Regions from separate parts of the Homo sapiens genome. Here region 1 is linked to region 2. The links come from fine-mapping of genetic effects on gene expression. A gene starts in region 2. The other region holds a variant in brackets. All regions are shown on one strand. Distances are from middle to middle. Region 1 has its middle 230 kb from the start of SYT1. Region 2 holds the start of SYT1 (synaptotagmin 1).

What was found. PIP is the estimated chance that this variant, and not a neighbour inherited with it, causes the effect. A credible set is the group of variants that fine-mapping cannot tell apart.
Region 1: its variant is the best candidate, but not a certain one, in a credible set for the expression of SYT1 in T cells (TOPMed, PIP 0.51).

What each region holds. Positions count from the first base shown.
Region 1 is chr12:78,625,602-78,635,608 of GRCh38, forward strand. No RefSeq gene overlaps it. Among named protein-coding and RNA genes, the nearest start is that of SYT1, 230 kb to the right of the region's middle. The variant T/G (reference allele first, on the strand shown) is at 4,887.
Region 2 is chr12:78,859,144-78,869,150 of GRCh38, forward strand. It overlaps SYT1 (synaptotagmin 1), which reads left to right and starts at 5,631. Exons shown (of 11, transcript NM_005639.3): 1 at 5,631-5,966. RefSeq lists a silencer at 4,415-4,474.

The DNA of each region.
Region 1 (10,007 bases), 230 kb before region 2:
TTTTTCCTCCTGTATTTCTTTCATCATCTGCAGGCTGTCTTCCAATGTAGTTAAATTTCATATTAGCTACAGAGCATAAATATATGACATTTTTGGCTTAAATGTTAGTGCTGGGTATTTAAATTGATGGCTTCGTTTTGGAAGCTGTATTAGAGTTTTCCAGAGAAATAGAACGTATATACATATATATATATATACACACACACACACACATATAAAACGTATATATGACATATATATAGAACATATATATATAGAGAGAACATATATATGTGTGTGTGTGTGAATCTATATATGTGTGTATATATGTGTGTGTATATACATATATATATATATAGGTTCTGTGTGTGTGTGCTTTTGATGCCTCTTCCTAGCTTCTGTCATATATATAATATATATATATATATATATTATATATTATATAATATATATTATGTATTATATATTATATAATATATATAATATGTATTATATATATATTATATAATACGTATTATATATAATACGTATTATATATAATATATTATATAATACGTATTATATATTATATAATATATAATACATATATATACACACACCCATATATATGAGAGAGAGAGAGATTTAGGTATTGGCTCACGTAATTATGGTGACTGGCACGTCTAAAATCTGCAGGGCGGACTAGAGTTCCCGTATTGTGGAGGACAATCTGCTGTATTTAAAGTTTACCAATCTCACCCAAAAAACAGTCTCATAGAAACATCCAGAACAATGTTTGACCAAAATCTATGGCTCTACCAAGTTGACATATACAATGAAGTATAACAGAAGTTAAAAGTTTTCTACTTTTCCTTACTTTAAGCCTCATTAAAATTTAAGGAGGTAACTATGTCCAGGACTCATCTTTTGAATTTATATTACTTAAATACAGACTCATAAATTAAAGCCCCTCCACCACTGCCACACCATTATAGTCACCATATACCCTAACTGGTTCTATAGTATTTACTACTGTGTTCCTAATTATGGTTTATGAACAAATATACATTGAGTGCTTAGAAGGTACCATGAACTGTTCCAGGTGCTGGCCATAAGAGCTGGTTTTTCTAGAACTATGTTCTACTGGGGACCATAGGCAATAATAAATAAATAAGTGAACATAAGTCAAAGTCATAATAACTAGTATAAAGAAAAATAAAGCAGCTTATTGAGAGAGAGCATAGCAGCAAGAATTATACTAAATAGTGTGGTCAGAGAAGCCTCTCCATGGATGCAATGCTTCTGTTTCAGCAAGAACTTAAAGTAGTGTTGGGTCAAACTAGGCAGATATCTGGGGCAAATGTGTTCTATTGAGAAGGACTAGCAATTGAAAAATCCTGAAGTCGTGCTGCCTTTTTGTGTTCACATAATAGCAGGGGCCAATGTGGCCAGAGCAGAGTAAAAGATGGAGTTAAGAAATGAGGCCACGAGGAGCCAGGAGCAGGTTGTCACTGTAGCATTTCAGGGACCCAAGCTATGTATTTAAGTCCGATGCTATGGTGATTTTATTAGAGAAAAGAGAGAAAAGGAATTTTGAATCTTATTTTATAGGACACAATTTTCAAGTGTAAATGTCTATCTGGGTTAGACAGATAAAGAAAATGTATGAGGCATGTTGGTAGAAATGGGTGACCTGGAATGTTAAGACCTTCTAAAAACTGAATTTCAAGTCTATGCTACAGCTAGGTATAATTACACAGAGAATTCAGACTACAAGTTGTGAATTTGCGACTTCTGATAAAATGCTGTATAGATCATTATGTGAATTAGGGAAGGAAGTGTGTATTTTTAAAATCTGTTCTCTTTACTGAGCACTACAGAAGAAGTTTTCACATATGTTATCTCACTAAATCCTCAAGATAAAACTATATCATAGGTACTTTTCAAAGAAGAACATAGCCAGGTCAGAGGTACATCCTAACTAATCAGCGGCAGCCATGGGGATAAATTGAAGCTCTTGATTGACACTTGCTGTGCCACATAGTTAAGTCAATGAAATGGTATGTTTAAATGAGCCTCATCCATTTTTGTCAGAGCCACCACAATTTGATAGATATCAGCTACCAGACTTATTGAGATAGATTATTATGTATAACTTTCAAAAATATTTTTCAAGAACTAGTAGAATACTATTAAACTCCTCACATACACCAAGGGTATAAAGTGATTGAGGGTAAGGAGGTTATTTTGGAAAGAGGATGTCTTTCTTGTGAACTGTGCTGTGAGCCCTACTCCCTGAAGAAAAAAGGGTAGGGCCATTAGCCTCTCACCAAAAGCCTAGGAAGAAAGAATGGCTTTCTTCTAGGAAGAAAGAATTAACTCAAGAAACATTTGTCTCCTGAATCTCATTTGGAAAATCTCAAAAGCTAGAGATGCCTTAAATGATGGCAGAGGTGAAGTAGAAGTTGCTGCTGCCATTATGTTGTGGAAAATAATGAATAGACCAATTGTAGCCATATGAATGAGCACAGTGGCATGGGTTGTATTTGATCCTGTACAAAAAGGAAGATGTGAAACTCAGCATTGTAGAGATCTACTGACTATACTACAAAACACTAAAAAATGAGCTGATGGGATATCGTTTGCATCAAAAGAAATGCAGATGAGATGGCCCCAGCAAAGGGGAATTTCCTGAAGAAGATGCAAAAGTTTTCCATATGTGTCAGTTTAAATATTGTCCAGCCTAACAGAACTTGAAGCCAGCTTATGACATTAGAGCCAAATAACATAACTACCCCTCATAACTCCCCGCTTTTTGAGGACAGACTTCCCCCATGACAATAATGTTAATGTGGAGAACACAAGACTAAATGTTTATTATCAACAATAAATTCAAAAAGTGTTAGTAGCCATCAAATCATTTTTTATCAAATCAGTATAATTAAACTATTTTATAAATAACTTGTCTTCACCTAAAAGTAAAAATCTTCCCAAACTCTTGCACAGGCTTTCCCTAAGCCAGAAGTTGGCAAACATTTTCTGCAAAGGACTAAATAGTAAATATTTTACACTTTGCATGCCAGGTGGTCTCTGTCACAACTATCCAATTCAGCCACTGTAATGTGAAAGCTTCAATAGACAATACATAAATGAATGAGAGTGGCTGTGTTTCAAAAAGCCTTTATTTACAAAAACAAGCAGTAGGCTAGATTTTTCTCATGAGCCACCATTTGGCAATGCTTGCCCTAAGCGGTAGAAGCAATCATATTCCTCAGTTTTATGTGTGTATTCTTCTTATAATATATTTGAAATAGTGAGGAGCCCAATTGCTGAGTCAACTAAAAGTTGTAGCTGCTTACTTTAGCATTAACTACAACCTTAACATTACTTGGCTAACTGATGATTTGTTTGTTCTATTATTTCAATAGTAATAGATAATTTTGGGGTAATTTACTTTGCCCTTTCCTTATAATATTTTGGTTGACCTGTATTGTTTCCTTTGATTTCATTTGTATGACTTTTTTCTACTAACTCAACTTGATATTTTTCCCTCTACCACTAAAATAGATGTCCATTTGAATTAACGCTATACCTCTAAATCAACATACTTTTAGATTTCTTACATGAAATATACTGGTAGAATAATTGATAGTCAAATATAATACTCCAAGCATCTTTATGATTTGTTAAGTAGGTTAAGGGCTGAAAAGGGTCACTCTGTCCAGTAAAATTTTTTCATGCCTGAAGATGGGAAGTTTTTACTTCCACCTCTTTGTCACATTGGCTAGACTGTCTAAAATCAAGGAAATAAAAAATAGTTATACTAGTGGTCTTTAAAAAAATAAGCAAATGAAACCAGTTTAATTCTTATCATTTGCAACATTGCCAATCTTACTTTTATTAGTTTATTAGGTGTTAGGTACAGAATCCAATTAGGCATTTGATTAACTAATATTGAAGATGTTACTTAAGGTAGATTTACTATACAACTTGGTGGATGTAAGAGTAAAATCATCTCAGAAGTACATCAAGCAGACAAATGCAATTAGAAAATCAATCATTAACAGAGCATATAAGCAAATTATTGGAGAGGAAGATTATTTCCTAAGAAAGTAAATTTATAATATTCTGGTAACTTATCCTTGATTCTAGAGAGATCAAAATAGATAATAAAGAAAACATAATGAATTAATAAATTATTTGTTTATTTGTTTGTTCAAAGGGAGGAACCTATCAGCTTGGAAGCATGGTAGATTTGCTATTATTGTATTGTTGTTATTAACATTTGTATTACATAAAAAATAAATTATTGATAAAATTATTCAATACAAAATTAAAAGTTGTAGATACCACAAAGAAAAAAATTTGTATTACAGTAAAAATGTTTTTATTTTATTCTCATAAATAAATGTTAGGTCTAAAGCCCAGATTGAGAGAATTTTTAAAAGAGAGGTGTTTTTCCACCAGTATTATGGCAGGTTACTCTTCTAAAAAATATTTTTCCTTTATAAACTATTTAGAAATATAACAATCTTTCAGATACACAGTTGAGTTCATAGGAAAATAAGAGAAAAAATGCCCAGGGGGCAAAATCAAAGAAGAGTCAGGAAACCAGAGTGGTCATTTTGAACTGAACCTGCATCTGCCCCATGGGTCATTACAAATCTCAGAAATCTAGAACCTTGGCCTCTAAAGTTCACTCAGAGTCAAAATAAAAACAAAAACTAAACAAAAAAAAAGCACTGCACCTATGCAAGGAGAATAAAGCACTGAGGTCCCTGGGGCTCTTGAAAGACCAGAGTCACAGTGCAATGGAGGATTGAGAAACAAATCTATTTATTGCCTTAAATAAGCTGACAAGGAAAAAGTCTGTGTAATCTGCAACATGAAAAAAAAATTATCTGAATTAAAACCCATAGTACTACTCT[T/G]CTGCAAGCTTGAAGTTTGCATTTATATTACCTACTAAGTACATAAAATTAGAAAAATAAATAAATTATAGTGGTTACAATTTAGTAGCCCCCAGAGATGTGGCAGAAGTTAAAGGAAATCTTTTCTCAAGGGATATACCTACATGCCAGGTCTCAAAGAATTTACACAAAGTCCCATGAAACATGGATTCACAACCCAAAATTACAGAGAACATAAAGAAACAGCCCACTATGAAAGGAGTCATCAGAAACATCAGATAGTGTAATTAAACCTGCAAAAATATCATATAATTGGGAACATCAGAAAAAATATTAAACATAAATTAAATATAGACATAAAAAAGAAGAAACTATAAACATAAGCAGATGGATCTGAAAAGAACAAAAGAGAATTTGTAGTAATAAAATCTATAATTTTGGAAATTAAAATGTAATGAATACATAAAATGTGTGCGACCCAGCTGAAGATGAAATTAGTGAACTGGAAAATCAAAATGAAGAAATTACATAGAACATAAAAAAGCAAAGCAAAAAAAAAAAAAAAGGAACTTTACCTAACAATTATGAACACGTATTCCTCTCAAGTACACTTGGAACAATGCAGAACACTCTCTAAGAAGAATATAATAATTTAGAAAATAATACAAGCAATTTAAAAAGAACAACTGGAAATTTAAAAACACACTCTAAAGAATAAGTCTTATGACAGGAAATATTTTGAACTATACAATTATATATAGCAAAACTCTGAAAAATAACTAAAGTGAAAGAAAACACACACCTTAACCACTTGCATTGAATAAAATTGTGAGATAAACATTAAGCCAAAGCACTTAGAAACAGCCCAAGTTTGGGGGCGCACACCCATAATCCCAGCACTTTGGGAAGCCAAGGTGGGAGGATAACTTGAGGTCATAAGGTGGAGACCAAACTGGGCAACATAGTGAGACCCTGTCTCTACAAAAATTTTAAAAATTTAAGAAATTGGCTGCATGGTGATACACCTGTAGCCTTTGGTGTGCAGGAGGCTGATGTGGGAGGAGCCCTTGACCCTAAGATTAAAGACTGCAGTGAGCTATGAAATAAATCCAAATAAAATGGAAGAACTGGAAAAATGAAGATAAAAGCAGATATTAGAAATAAAACCATAACTTTATTTTTTTATAAAGACTACCATAATAAATGAATTTTGACAATGATCAAGAAAAAAAGACATGAGTAAATGTTGCTCAAAAGGAAAAAGAAAATATAATAGACGAGCTTCTTACCTTGCACTACACACATACACACCGACACACATGTATCAAAATTACAGATTGATTAAAATATTAATAAAAACAAAATTTACAGAAAAATTGTACAATGGCTTTTGTTAGGAAAGGATTTCTTAAGATACAAGAACCAGTAACCACGAAAGAAAGATAGGTACATTTTGCTGCACAAGGATTAAAAATTTCTATTTATAAAATGTGACAATAACAAGGCAGACAGAGAAAAAAAAATGTTGCAACAGATCCTACATTGAATTTTACATTCCAGGTACATTGGATGATGTTCAATGTAATGGACAAAGATTTAGTGCATAGACTTTATAAACACTATCTCCAAATTAATAAGAAAAATATAAAAATGCAGTGGAATTTGAGCAAAAAAGTGAAAGACACTGCCCCCAAACCCAAAAATATGAAAAGATTAATTTCACTAATAACAAAGAAGATCCAAGTTAAAACCACAGTAATGTATAGTTTTATACTGGATTTGTTGAAAAAAAGTTTCATCATTCAAAAGCATGGATACATTAAAATTACATTGCTGACAGGAATATATTTGGTATATCCTCCTTAGAGAGAAAATTGACTGTACACTCTCTGGTAAATAAAAAGTGCATATGGCCTATGAAATCACACTTTTAGGTTTGTAGTTTGGAGAGACTCTTGAACAAGGTGAGATGCATAGTTGTAATTTTATAATAGTCATTATAAATTATACCATATTTGGCTGGGAATAATGGCTCACACCTGTATCCCAGCACTTTAGGAGGCCTAGGTGAGAGGATTGCTTGAGCCCAGGGGCTTGAGACTTGGGCAACATAGTGAGACCTTGTCTCTACGAAAAAATAAAAAAATGATGGAGGAGGATTGCTTGAGCTCAGGAAGATTAGACTGCAATGAGCCATGATTGTACCACAGCACTCCCTCCTGGGTGACAGAGCGAGACCCTGCTTCAAAAAAGAAAAATATACCATATTTACATAATAAAATACCATATAGGAGTGCAACTAAATGACCTATAATCATTGATGAATTTCACAAATGATATTAAGTAAAAACATTATTGTTTAGGGATATAAATAAAGTGCCAAAGAATTACACATAAAAAGTTAGGTTGGTGCTTTCTTCTGTGGAATAAAGTATAAATAAGAGAGTATTACACAGAGACCTTCAACTCTATAAACTGGCTAATGCATTCACCATATTTATATATTTCCCCTTGTCTGAAAATTTTTGGAATAATAGATACAAAAGAAAGAGAAAAGATCTGCTAAATGTTTTAATCTTCTTTTCATTAGTGTTATAAGACCTACCAGTATACCATTATCTTTTTTCATCTCCAGAAAAACCCTGGCTGAATATCTTCTGGAGTAACTACCGCACTACATGAATGTTTAGTCTACATATTTCTATTTTGACCTTCTTATTCCTATATTGTTCCAGAATCACTATGCTTCTTGAGCAAATAGTGTGAAAGAGAAATGTGATGTTTGCCATACAGTAAAAACTAAAGAGCACCATCACTATCTTTCAATTATTTTCATAAGTTTCAAAGAGCATTTGGTATCAAGAATACATTTGGACTCACAGCTCTGCAAGCAGTTTGGCTTTTTAGAGAAATTTTTAAAGGTCCAAAAAAAAAAAAAACAGAATTAGTGGAGTCCTGTTAAATCATTCACTGTCATTAGGTGAATTACAGAATGTATGTATAGCACATCCTGCTTCCATTTAATTAATGGTTGTAAGTATATTCAGTGATATAAGCAAGAAACAAAACTTGGTTGCTTCAGGAACTTAGGAGATGTGATATAATTTCCTTGGAAAATATGTATATAGAAAATACAAGCAACTACAAACCATGAAAGTAAGAATAAGATGTATATAGGCTAAACCGAGGAATTTGGCACTAAAAAGGTACTAAATGTTGTTACATAGGTGTATGATTGATTATTACAAAAAACTGGAAGAAACAAACCTTAAACAAGCATTTTTGAGGTGCCACTAAAATTGTAGTAGGGAAGAAGTTATCTGTAGTGTATGACTCTTATGAGATGATAAAACCATTTATTTGAAGTACAACATTCAAAGGAATTATGAGATGTTTGTACAATAAGATTACATTTAAGTCCTGAATGAAATGAACGAGGTCAGGAAATGAGCCTAAGCAAAGAACATCTTAGACAAAGGAAATAATACAGTCTCCGAGCCAGAAGCACTCAGGGTGTGGAGATTCACTACACACAATAGCATCTTAAAGGCTCTGATAAGTCCATCTTTAAATAATCATTTAAAAATATACTTATCTCATCATTTTTCTAATTTGTTTGATTCCAAACTGTGTTTGTTATTTTAGAGTTGATTTTCCTTCATCACCTATTGTGTTATGCTAGACATTTCAGGTAAGTGTCTCAATCATTTTGCAAGGTTTTTTTTTTTCTTGGTAAGGTGAAACATAAATGCAAGTAAAATGCCAATGCGTAGAGTATTCCCTGGATCATTGTAGTAAATTCGTGTAAAGTAAATAAAATGCCAGATGTTATAGTTTCATTAGACCCAGGGGCACATTTTTTTTTAAATTTCCGCTGGTATTGTCATTACACTACTTGAATCAATCTTAACTGAGCTCAGACTCCCTCATACCAAATTGGTTTCTGCCTTCTACACCTCTGGCTCCATCATTTAAAAGTCTCTGCTAAAGTAATTTTATAGGTTTCATCTTGTTTCATCTTTGGTCAAAAATTGCTTCTGCATTGGATATAGAATCAAGTTGAAATTTTGTTATCTGATATTCAAAGTTCTTTTTCTAATTAGACTCCAATCTACTTTTCAAAATTATTATCTCCCACATTAGCCCCACTTGAAATTTTGTACACATTTCCTGTTCTCAGTGTTCTGCACCACCTAAAATAATATTCCCCTTCTCTAATATAAATTTAATCTATGCTATTTATATTTCAAAGCCTGTGCTCTATAAGGGCTTTTCAGTACTACCACATCTCACAATTATCTCCCTTCCCAATTTCAGTGACATTATTTGTCTATACCACTAATGTGAGACATTAATTTGTTTATTTTATAATTATCCTAGTTATGGAGATGAATGCATAAAAGTCATAGTTATATAAATACGGGCTTCTGAAAGGCAAGAATGATTTACATCTTTTATCTATTAGAACCAAAAGATTTATCAGCTTAATAAATACCTAACAAATATAGGTACAGAAATTGATAAAATGCCTACATATAAATTATAAATACACTGAAACTCACAAAGGTCTCCTTCACTGACAATCCATATATATTTTAAGGTTGCTTCAACTAAAATATTAAGTGAATGCTTTGCAAATTTGACTGTATCCAGGTTTATATCAGAAGGTGAGATTGAATAAGGCTTGATGCAGAATCTAAACTTCACATTTATCTGTATATTATGTTCACTTCTAAGGATATAGCACAAAGGGAACATTTTTTATTTAAAGTGAACTACAGCTGTGCTGTGAAGAGAGTTCTTTATAAAGACTGCAGGTTCTTATAACTTTGGTTTAAAATGCAATATGGGAAAATGTTGGATATTTGAGGCCTTGCTTAATATATTTCTACTGCAGTATCCTTTAAAAGCAAAAAAAAAATGCATTTATATGACAGTTTTCCTCTGTAAAGGTCCTTGCTTATATGATACAAGCACTCTGTTTTGTGCTTAAACTCTTCAGAGGGGTAGCATCAAAGTTCTTGGGGAAGGATTGTATATGTCCCTTCCCTAAAAGAATCCCTAGAAGAATGGTTGCTGATACGGCTACTGCTTCTACATCTTGAGTTTTTTAATTTGCTTTTATTAAAGCATTGATGCTGC
Region 2 (10,007 bases):
CTACCATCCTTCTCTTCACAATTGTATTATTAAAATAGTTTTATTTTGTTGAAAACACAGACTCTTCTCCCACTCACACTCAACCCTCTATGGCTTTTGGTAACTCGATTAGTCTCTCTGGACACACTTTTCAAATAAGTTGAATGAAGCAGCTGAACTATAATTCTCTGTGTGTTCAATTAGATAGAAATCCTTCCTCTGATTTCAAAGGGAATTAATGTAAACTTTAATGTTGCCCTTGCTTTATTAGCAAACTAGTTTTCACCACGGTATATTCCTTTTATCATAGAGTATTTGAAACATATATCATTTGTTTCCTTTCTAAGACCTTTAGCTAACATTAGCTCAAACTACTTTTATTTTGCCCCTGAGATAGATTCACCTAAATGATATTTTCCTTGCTAACCTCAACAGCCTGACACAGTATATTACTTTTTGAGTAACTGTCCTCCTTTTCATTTCCAATACTTTCTTAGCCACATCTTTAAGAAAAGGCTTTTGTAAAGCCACATAGAAAACTACTAGCTCTTTGTTTTCCTTTCTTTGGAAATTGTGAAGTTTCATCGTTCAATTATGGGGCTCTAACTCTCTGCTCCAGAGACTTGACTCCCATCAGTATTCATTTTTTTTCTTCTCCCATTTCTAGAGTCTCTTTATTAAATTCCATGGATGTTCAGTATAAAAATCAACACAGCTAATTTCTAATCTAATTCTGATACAAGGAGCCTTCATGTTTTTTCTTTACCAATTGGTTACAAAATCACTAGCAGTAATCCCAGGACAAATGATCTTGAGAAAGATGAATGGAAGAGAAATAAAAATGATGGCTCTACTGTCTTCAAGAGCATTTTCTAGAAAACAAAACAAAACAAAACAAAATAGTGTTCATCATTTTTTTTTTTGCCACCAGAATTGGATATTTCTTAATTTGAAAGAATAATATAAACAAATGTTTTTATGAAAAAAAAGCTTAAGTATCCATCCCTAAAAACTAAATTATTCATCTCGTAGATGATTACAGTGTAAGACTACTACATGCAAGACAGATGACTGTTGTCATTTTACGTATTAAAAAAGTTCTGTATCCAGGCGCGGTGACTCATACGTGTAATCTCAGCACTTTGGGAGGTCAAGGTGGAAGGATCACTTGAGCCCAGGAGTTCAAGACCAGCCTGGGCAATATGGCAAAAAAAAAAAAAAAAAAAGAAAGAAAGAAAAAAAAAATTAGCCCAACATTGTGGCATGCACCTGTAGTCCCAGCTACTAAAGAGACTAAGCTGAGAGAATCACCTGAGCCTAGGAATTGGAGGATGCAGTGAGCCATGATTGAGTCACTGCGCTCTAGCATGGGCTACAGAGTTAGACACTGACTCCTCCCATCAAAAAATAAATAAAAGTTCTTATAACATGAATTAACACCCTTCTACCTTTAATGCTCATAGGTGAGGAGTCTATGGCTCACTATTGGCTTAAATGGATGAGATGATGGGAGGAAACCCAATAACCCAGAAATCTGGAAAAAAAAAATAGTAGTAGCAGAAGTAGCAGCAATGATAATGATAAAATGATAATAATAGTCATTAAGTTCTTGCTATGTGCTTGGAACTAGCACTTTATGTGCACTGCTTTTTTTAATCCAGAAAAAAAACCTAATGATAAATGTTGTATTCTTATGTACATATTTTAGATGACAAAACTGAGACTTGGAGGGGTTTTGTACATTTTTCAAGGTGGCATAGCCAATTAGTGGTGAAGCTGGAATTCTACCCAAATTCTGACACCAGAAAACATTTAATTAATTATCTGTCCTGCAAAGAGACCAAAAAGTCAGTATCTTGAGAAACACAGATATAAAGTGAAAAGAATAGTAAGATCTGCATCTATATAAAAAATAAACAAAAAAATAGAAAAATTTAGAGAAGTCAATTATTTTTCTTTTTTAAAGAAACAATCCTGGGTAATGATATTTATAAATAGCTTTTACCAGACAACTACTGTGGCTACTAAAGATATAAAGTTTAATGATGTATGAGTCTTAATTAAATGTAACTCTTTTTTTATTATTTATTTATTTTGAGACAGTCTCGCACTTGTCACCCTGGCTGAAGTGCAGTGGCGGGATCTCGGCTCACTGCAAGCTCCGCCTCTCGGGTTCACGCCATTCTCCTGCCTCAGCCTCCTGAGTAGCTGGGACTACAGGCGCCCGCCACCACGACGGGCTAATTTTTTGTATTTTTAGTAGAGACGGGGTTTCACTGTGTTAGCCAGATGGTCTCCATCTCCTGACCTCGTGATCCGCCCACCTCGGCCTCCCAAAGTGCTGGGATTACAGGCGTGAGCCACCGCGCCCAGCCGGATTAAATGTAACTCTTTAGTATCATTGATCAACCAGGTAATTCTGGCCTTTCCAACAACCTGCAGAATTTTCTTGATACCTCTCTCACGTTAAGTATTCTTTCTGTGGTTTACAGAAACCTTGGCTAAGTTTCCACTTAATGAATTTCTAGTTCTAATGTCCCTAATTCCCACTCTTGCCATAAGACACACTTTCCTCCTCAGTGCCCCAATCCAATTTAGTTTCTATTCTGATCCTGTAGCCTAAAATAGATGGCAAAGGAAGCATGAAAGTAGTAAATAGATGAATCCAATAAAAAAGGAATAAAGAAAATATTGAAAATGAGATCTTGATCAGAGCAAAATGTGAAGAAAAATTAATAACACTTTTTTAACGAAGAAAGAGGAAACAAAACATTAAACAGATTTTGTAAAAGTTCTGAAAATAATATTTTTAAAATACCATACAATCAGGGGATAAGTTAATTCTCAACAGCAAAAGTACTCTAGATGTAAAAGTACTTAAGAAATGGAATGATAAGAGTGACAAAGAGCTCTCTCTTTGTCTCTACAGAACAATTGACCCGATCTTCCTTTTAATAAAAATGAGTCTGCTTCAATAGGCAAAGAGATGATACACACTTGCGGCAAAGTATAATGTTGTGTCAGCCCAGTAGATCCAGGAGGACGTCTTCAACACATTCCCAAGAGCTTGGAGAGAATTTAGGAATAGGAGGGAGAGTTAAAATCTTAGTATAGCTACAGTCACCATATAAATAGAGTCTTCTTATTATTTATGTACAGAAAATGTTATCAATTCTAAAGTTAAGCACAATATACATGTAAAGCCCATTTCTTATTTTAACCTGCAGTCTCCCTCAAGGAACATTGGGTTACAAACTTCTGATACCATTCATGTTGCCAAGGATTCTGGCCACTGAAATAGAAAGATTGCTAGGTAAGATGTGAAGTAAACAGGAAAAGAAATTGACTAAAATATTAATGACAAAATCAGTGTCTGGAGCAAAAATTTTAAAATCTGTATTTGTATTCTATTGACTAATTTATTCTAAAATAAGCATACTTTTTTTCTACATGCAGCTATTGGTAAATAGGATAAATGTGCCAGTTTTAATCACTGGAATCTAGAAAGTATGCTAGGCATATATTTAGAATAAAGATCTATATTAAGTGGATATTATAATAATCTTCTCATCCAAAGATATTTATTGGACAACAAAATTACAGGGTTACTTAATTCTTCTTCGTCTTCTCTTCCTCCTTCTTCTCCTTTTCCTCCACCTCACCATCCTCCTTCTCCTCCCCTTCCTCCTCCTCCAACTTCTTCTACTTTTTATCCTGTCGTTTTTCTTCCTTCTCTGTCTTCTCCTCCTCCTCTCCTTCACTAAATAACTGAAATAAAATTTAGACCAAATTCTTTTATCTTATTTCTCCAACTATGAAATGATTTTAAAATAAGGTTTGGAGACTATTTTGGAAAATGGAAAGTGAATATTTACATGAAGTCACAAGTCTGGGGTGCATTATTTTCACACTTCTACCTCTAATGTTAAACTTCCTATTATTCAAGCATAGCCCAAATACAAGTGTTTGTCACTTAGAAGGATATATTTATATCACGTTGCCTTCTTTTCCCGTATACTTAGAATAAGGATCTTAATCTTAAACATTACATAAGTAGAAGAGATTTAATTAAAAACTTGAAGAAATGTGTTACTGTTAATTGAATTCTTGCTACATTTACCTTTGCACACCAATGTTAATAAAACTCCAGTTCAAAGTGGATGGGTTTGGGGAATTGAGATAGCTATTTATTTCCCTACCTGAGATGCCAAGATAATCTTCTCAGTAAAATAAAGAACCCAATTAGGAGAGTTCTCATTTGTAGCTATTGATCAAGTTTACACAAAATGCTAGGATTTCTAAATAAAACAAATAAGAGGTTCAAAGGCCTTTAAACGAGGTTGAGGGAGGGAGAAAGGGAAATAGTTCTCTCCGTTTTGAAATCCTTTCACCTGTGGAGCAGATAATGGACGGGCCCCTCTCCCAGCTGGGCTCCGCTCCCGCCCCTAGCCTGGCGCGCGGTCCCTTCCCCCACCCGCTGAGCCTTCCTGTTCGGTATTTCGGTATTACCAAGCTATAAATTGCCTGAGAGCTTAGAGACAATCAGGTCACCACCGCCCTCACAAGAGAAAAGCTTCTTACTTCCGAGCAGAACGGTTCAGCTGGGAAGAGAGGAAGCAGGGAGAGAATCTATGCTTTAGTCGTCACTGCTCTGGCAAGGGGTCGAGAGAGATGGGGGAGGGAGGTGGCAAAAAATAAAAATGAAAAAATAAAAAAGCATCTCCAACAATGTTGCACTTGACCCAAGTGTACAAACTTATTGGTCGCTGCAATGGAAACTCCCAGTGCACTCTCCACGGCCTGGCAGCCGCCGCTGATGGGTGGAGTCGCGCTCCCGGCCCCACCTATGGGACGGAGCTGCTTCTCCCGCATCTCGGCTCCACCGCACCCTTCGCGGGAAGTCCCCAGGCTTCCAGCAAAGCTCAGCTTATCCCGCCCCCGCTTCCAACCCGGAACCCCAGAAGAACAGCATGATGAGCCTCCGGCAGCCAGGTGGGCCACCTCCCCGCGGCTCAGTTTGAGGACACTTGTGCGGAACCCTTTCACATCCCCACCCTACCCAGCTTTCACAACTCCGCCGGGTTAAATGGCCAAAGACAAACTTCTACCTCTCCTGTCCCCGGTCCCAGCTTTTCAAAAACCCACAGCTGGCGAACCCACACACATCGAAACTCCTAGGTCGCTGTTGCAGTCTGGGCATGCTCAGTATCAGGGTAGGTTTTGATTGAGAGTAAAAAAAAAAAAAAAAAAGCTTTGTATTATGCTCTCTTTCTCCTGTGCATACTGCTTGCTGAACAGCTTGTGGGGCATTCCTGAGTCTACCTAGAGGTTTTATCAGACGCCCTTGATTGTGTCTCCTTGGGATCTGTTCCCCTCTTACTTCACCCCCTCCCCCAACCCGCCTCCACCCCGCTTCCCAGGTCCCTGTCCGCTGTGGGGATGGAGAGACACTAACAGAACTGGGATGGGCGATGTTGGCTGAACGGATCCACCTATTATTAGTGCGCGGGGATTGGCTCCTTGGCGCAGCGTACCCGAGGTGGAGCCAATCAGGATGCTGGGGCTCGGAGATGATGGGCGGCCGCCTCCTCACTGGAGGGATTCCTGGAGAAGCTGCAGTGTGGGGATGCTCTAGACCGAGTACTGCCCCCAGTGTCTTTCCACCTCCTCCTGCAGCAGCGGCAGCGGCAGCAGCAGTTAGCAGCGGCAACTTGAGGCTGCACCCCGGGCAAGTCCCCAGGGTGGTGCTCAGCCGAGAGGGGGGCTTGGCGCCCCGAAGGGGTGTGTGTAGGGTGGGGGCGACCACGTGGGACCAGCTGGTGGCCCTGGAAAACCTCCCACACACCCACACCCACACACCCCTTTTGTGTTGCAGGCTGCCCCTCCAAGAGCGGAGGCAGCGAGAGTACGCGTGTGCCTCGCGCCGGTCCACGCGGGGAGAGCACTGGGGACCGAGACCCGGCACCACCTCCCGGTCCGCCCTCCAGGTAAGGAAGCGGGACTGGCGGCGCGGCCACCTCGGCGGTGCCTATCTGCTCGAATCCATCCCAAAGATTTTCTTCTCGATACACTTGGGTTTTAGTGGTGGGAGTCTGAGACCTAGGGAGGGATCCCCGGGTGGCCTATTGTGAGAAATATGAGACTACATGTGCATCTCCTGGAAAAGCACTTTGCACAGCGCCCGTGATTTAGAGCCTGGAGTTGATGTTGGGCATCCCCCATCTTCTTGCTTCCTCTTTCCTTCTCTTGTTCTCTCTCCTCCGTCCCCCACCCCCAATCTCAATCTTTTCTCTCTTTCTCTCCCACACCTCCCCTCTCGCCCTCCTCCCACCCTAAGCACGCACAGCGTTTCTTTCTCCTCCTGGAGAGGATTGCCTTTCTTAGAGGAAAGAGGGGGAGTGAAGAAAGGAGAAAGATTTCTTTCTGTTGGGGAGAGGGATATGGGGGGGGGGGGGAACGTAAACAAGATAGAATACAAGCTCTGCGAAAATCAGAGCACATAAAGCAATTAAACTGAATAAGGGGAGTAGACAACCAGTCCAGCTTGGGCTGTCAGAGAGAGGAAGCGTCAAGTTTGACTTGATTTCCTCCTTGCAAGAGTCTATGTCTCTCACTTGATTCGTTCAAATGGAACAAAAATAAACCGACAATCCAACCCACTTTCAACTGCTTAATTGCTTTTGCTTTTGAGTGCCAACCATCTGACTTTTCCTGTTTCCATCTGTCCTGTGGGGCTAACAATTTGGTATTGCACATCAGTGTTAATATCTGAACTTTGAAAGCTTTCTTGAGTAACAAAAAAAAAAAAACAATTAAAATAGATTATTACTTTCCTGAGGTTTCTTGGTATGGCCTGTTGTTGGGGGATCAAAAAATGTAAAGTTTCAAAACATTTGCAAGGGACAACAATTTTATAGGGAGGCTTGGATTTCTACTTTGAGAAAGCTAATCTTCTAGTTAGCTTTGTGTACATGTTGATATTCACTTTCTCCAGTATTAACCCTTTCGTGAAATAAAGCAACTGTTTAACTTTTGTATGGAAGCTACATTTGTGTAGAATTTTCACTTTATTCTACCTTTGTACTATTTGCATTTTATTGTCTGGATACCAAACTTATGCCTGGCTTTATTTTCTTTTAATAGGACAATATTTAATGGATGTAAACATGATGTTTATACAATTTCAGCACTCCCTTTAGAAGGCACATGGAGGCTCAGTTGGACAAGAATCCTCCTGTACTGGAACTAAGTTTAGAAAGTAATGCTAGAAAGATACCCTAAATTTTAAAAATCCTGAAGGGGAAAACATTTTTGTAACGTCTTGTTAAAAGAAAGAAAAATATATCAAAACACCAACATGCCCCTGGCTGCCTGCATAATAGGTCAAGTAAATGGTACTTGTTGGACAGAGCCTTTACAGCAGCTTCAGCAGTCTCTAATTCCATCATTGGGGATATAAGCTTTCTTTTCTTATTATTCTTCAGGGACAGCTAAGCGATAGTACTGTCAGATGGAAGGAGGTATAGAGAAATGCCTCGTTTGATGTAATAGGAAAGCATTCCAAGTGGGTCTTACCTGAACACAGAGAAATCCACAGATGTTAGTATACAAAACACTTCTTTTTATTTATCAGGGGAAATGCAGAGTCTTACTTTTTTTTGTCTAGAACTCCACTTGATATAAGAAAAGAGAATCTTCTATCTTAACTGTGTCTGACCTTCCACACTAATTTTGTATCTCAGAGAGTATTTTTTCACTACGTACGTTTAATATATAAGTTTACACACCAACTTAGAGAAGAGCTGAATTCATTTGCCATCAGTGTAATGTGTACTATTTTCCAAACCATTTTGCATTTGAGGCAATGATCTCTCCCTAAATAGAATTACCAAGTCACGAAAAACGATTTTCTTTCTAGGGCTTTGACATTTAAATGAAAAAAAAAAAAAAATAGTGTCTCTGTTGAAAGCTAACTCTGGTTTTTAGAGGTGCCACCTTTTGGTTACAAGGACAAAGGGACAATCACTTAATTACCTCACATGTATGTACAACTGAATTAACAAGTTTAGACATGAAAAGATGTACAAAAAGGAAGCCAGCTGCCTTCATGTGAGAAAATTAAGATTTTGTTTTCTCATTTCTCCACTGTCTTAGGAATATGTGAAAATTTAGGCTTGGTTTGTGACATTTATTTTCATGACTCTTTACAAATGTTAATTATAGAAATAACATCTAAAAATATGGATATGAGTAGTTTTTCAAATACTTCTAAAAAATTCAATATCTGTGTATTGGAAATCAGAACTAATTCCAATATATAGTGAGTGGATTGGGGAGAGACCTTACATGATATATTATAGGAAATTCTTACTTTGTTATCCCACAAAATAGTCTAATGTCACAATTTCATACAATCTTTGTTTTTTCTCCCTTTGACAGGATATTTTAGTAAATCTCATTAATGTTTCAGAGTAAATATGATAATTATGCCTCGAGGTATTTTTGTCAGAATTGAAGACTGCTAATATATAGGGAAAATCCTAAAATACTAATTTCACAAAAATACCACATGATTGAGAGTTGTTGCTGAGTAGTTTTGAACTTCATTTCATAATGGAGAATATTAGTTATTTCATCTGGTCAAATTATCAGATAGTTCTAATCAACAAATATGAAAATGAATAACATTGTATTTATACGATTTGCATATTAGACTGAAATTGAAACTAAAAAATAGTATTAATTATATGCTTGTATTAATTATATGCAAGATGAGCTGGAAGATTAATAAAATAAAATGTAGAATATGTTAGAAATCTGAAAGTTAATTTGAACTTCCTGTTAGCCTAATAACACCATTAACATAATATCAGTTCATCACTTTTGATGTCAGTATATTAAGTTGATTTTGAGAAAATTCCCAAAACAGTTAGAGCCATCTAATCTTAAAGAACACACACTTAATGCAGACAATTATACGAGCCTGAAATATAGTTCTTATGATTTCCAGTTTGTGCAACAACCAAGAAGAGCTATCACTAATTCCAAATTGAAACATAATATTTATTTTCCTAATGGTAATAATTAAGTAATTTGGGGGGAACAAGAAATAAAAACAGTTTGATTATATAATGGAACAAATCTTTGTCTAATATTACCAAAAACCCATACCAAAGTTAGACTTTCTGCCATTGTGTAATGTAGGTATGCGTCTTGCATGCATTCTGCAGAAAATATAATATTTTTAAAAAGTAAATATCTGATGTAGTTGTGATATTTTAAAATTCTTAAATAATTTATTTATCATAAATATATCTGTACCAAAAGTTCAATACATGACGTGGCTGATTTTAGCTGAAATTTTTTCACTGAAATTGACCAAAGCCATTTAAAAAGAGACAAAGTATATGGCAATATACATAATAATTTCAGCTAGAATTTAAGGATATGTGTGTGTATATACATATGCATATATTTGTGTGTATATATATTCCGAAATTATCTAAATTTTTCAAAAAGGTTTAGAAACTCATGGACAGTAGACTATAATTTGCTGAAACTAGGGGCTATTCATGTACAAAGTACCATTTAAAGAAAGATGACGGTGTCTTAGGAATGCTTTTAAGGGTTCTTTGGTTGAAAGTCTGGGAATACTCAGAGATAATATTAATGAGAGCCTAGAGTTTTTTTCTTTTAAAATGGGGTTCCATGGCTTTGGGCAGAAATGATTTTTATATGTATCATGATTGAAAAAACTCTCAGTACAAGATGATGCACTTCTTTATACAGGTAACAAATAAGTTGAAATCATATTTTTACATGATTTAGATATGATGGCTGATAAAACTTCTGTCTTTCTAAGGCTTTTGGCAGATGTTTCTTTCAATATTTGCATTAAGGTAAACATTCTTAATTTTTTATGTAATTGAATGGCATGATTATCATTGCATTGGGTGGGAGAATGTGGGTTGATATGTTTTCATTAAATTCCTCAAGAAATGATCAACATTTTTTCAGTCTTTTTGCAA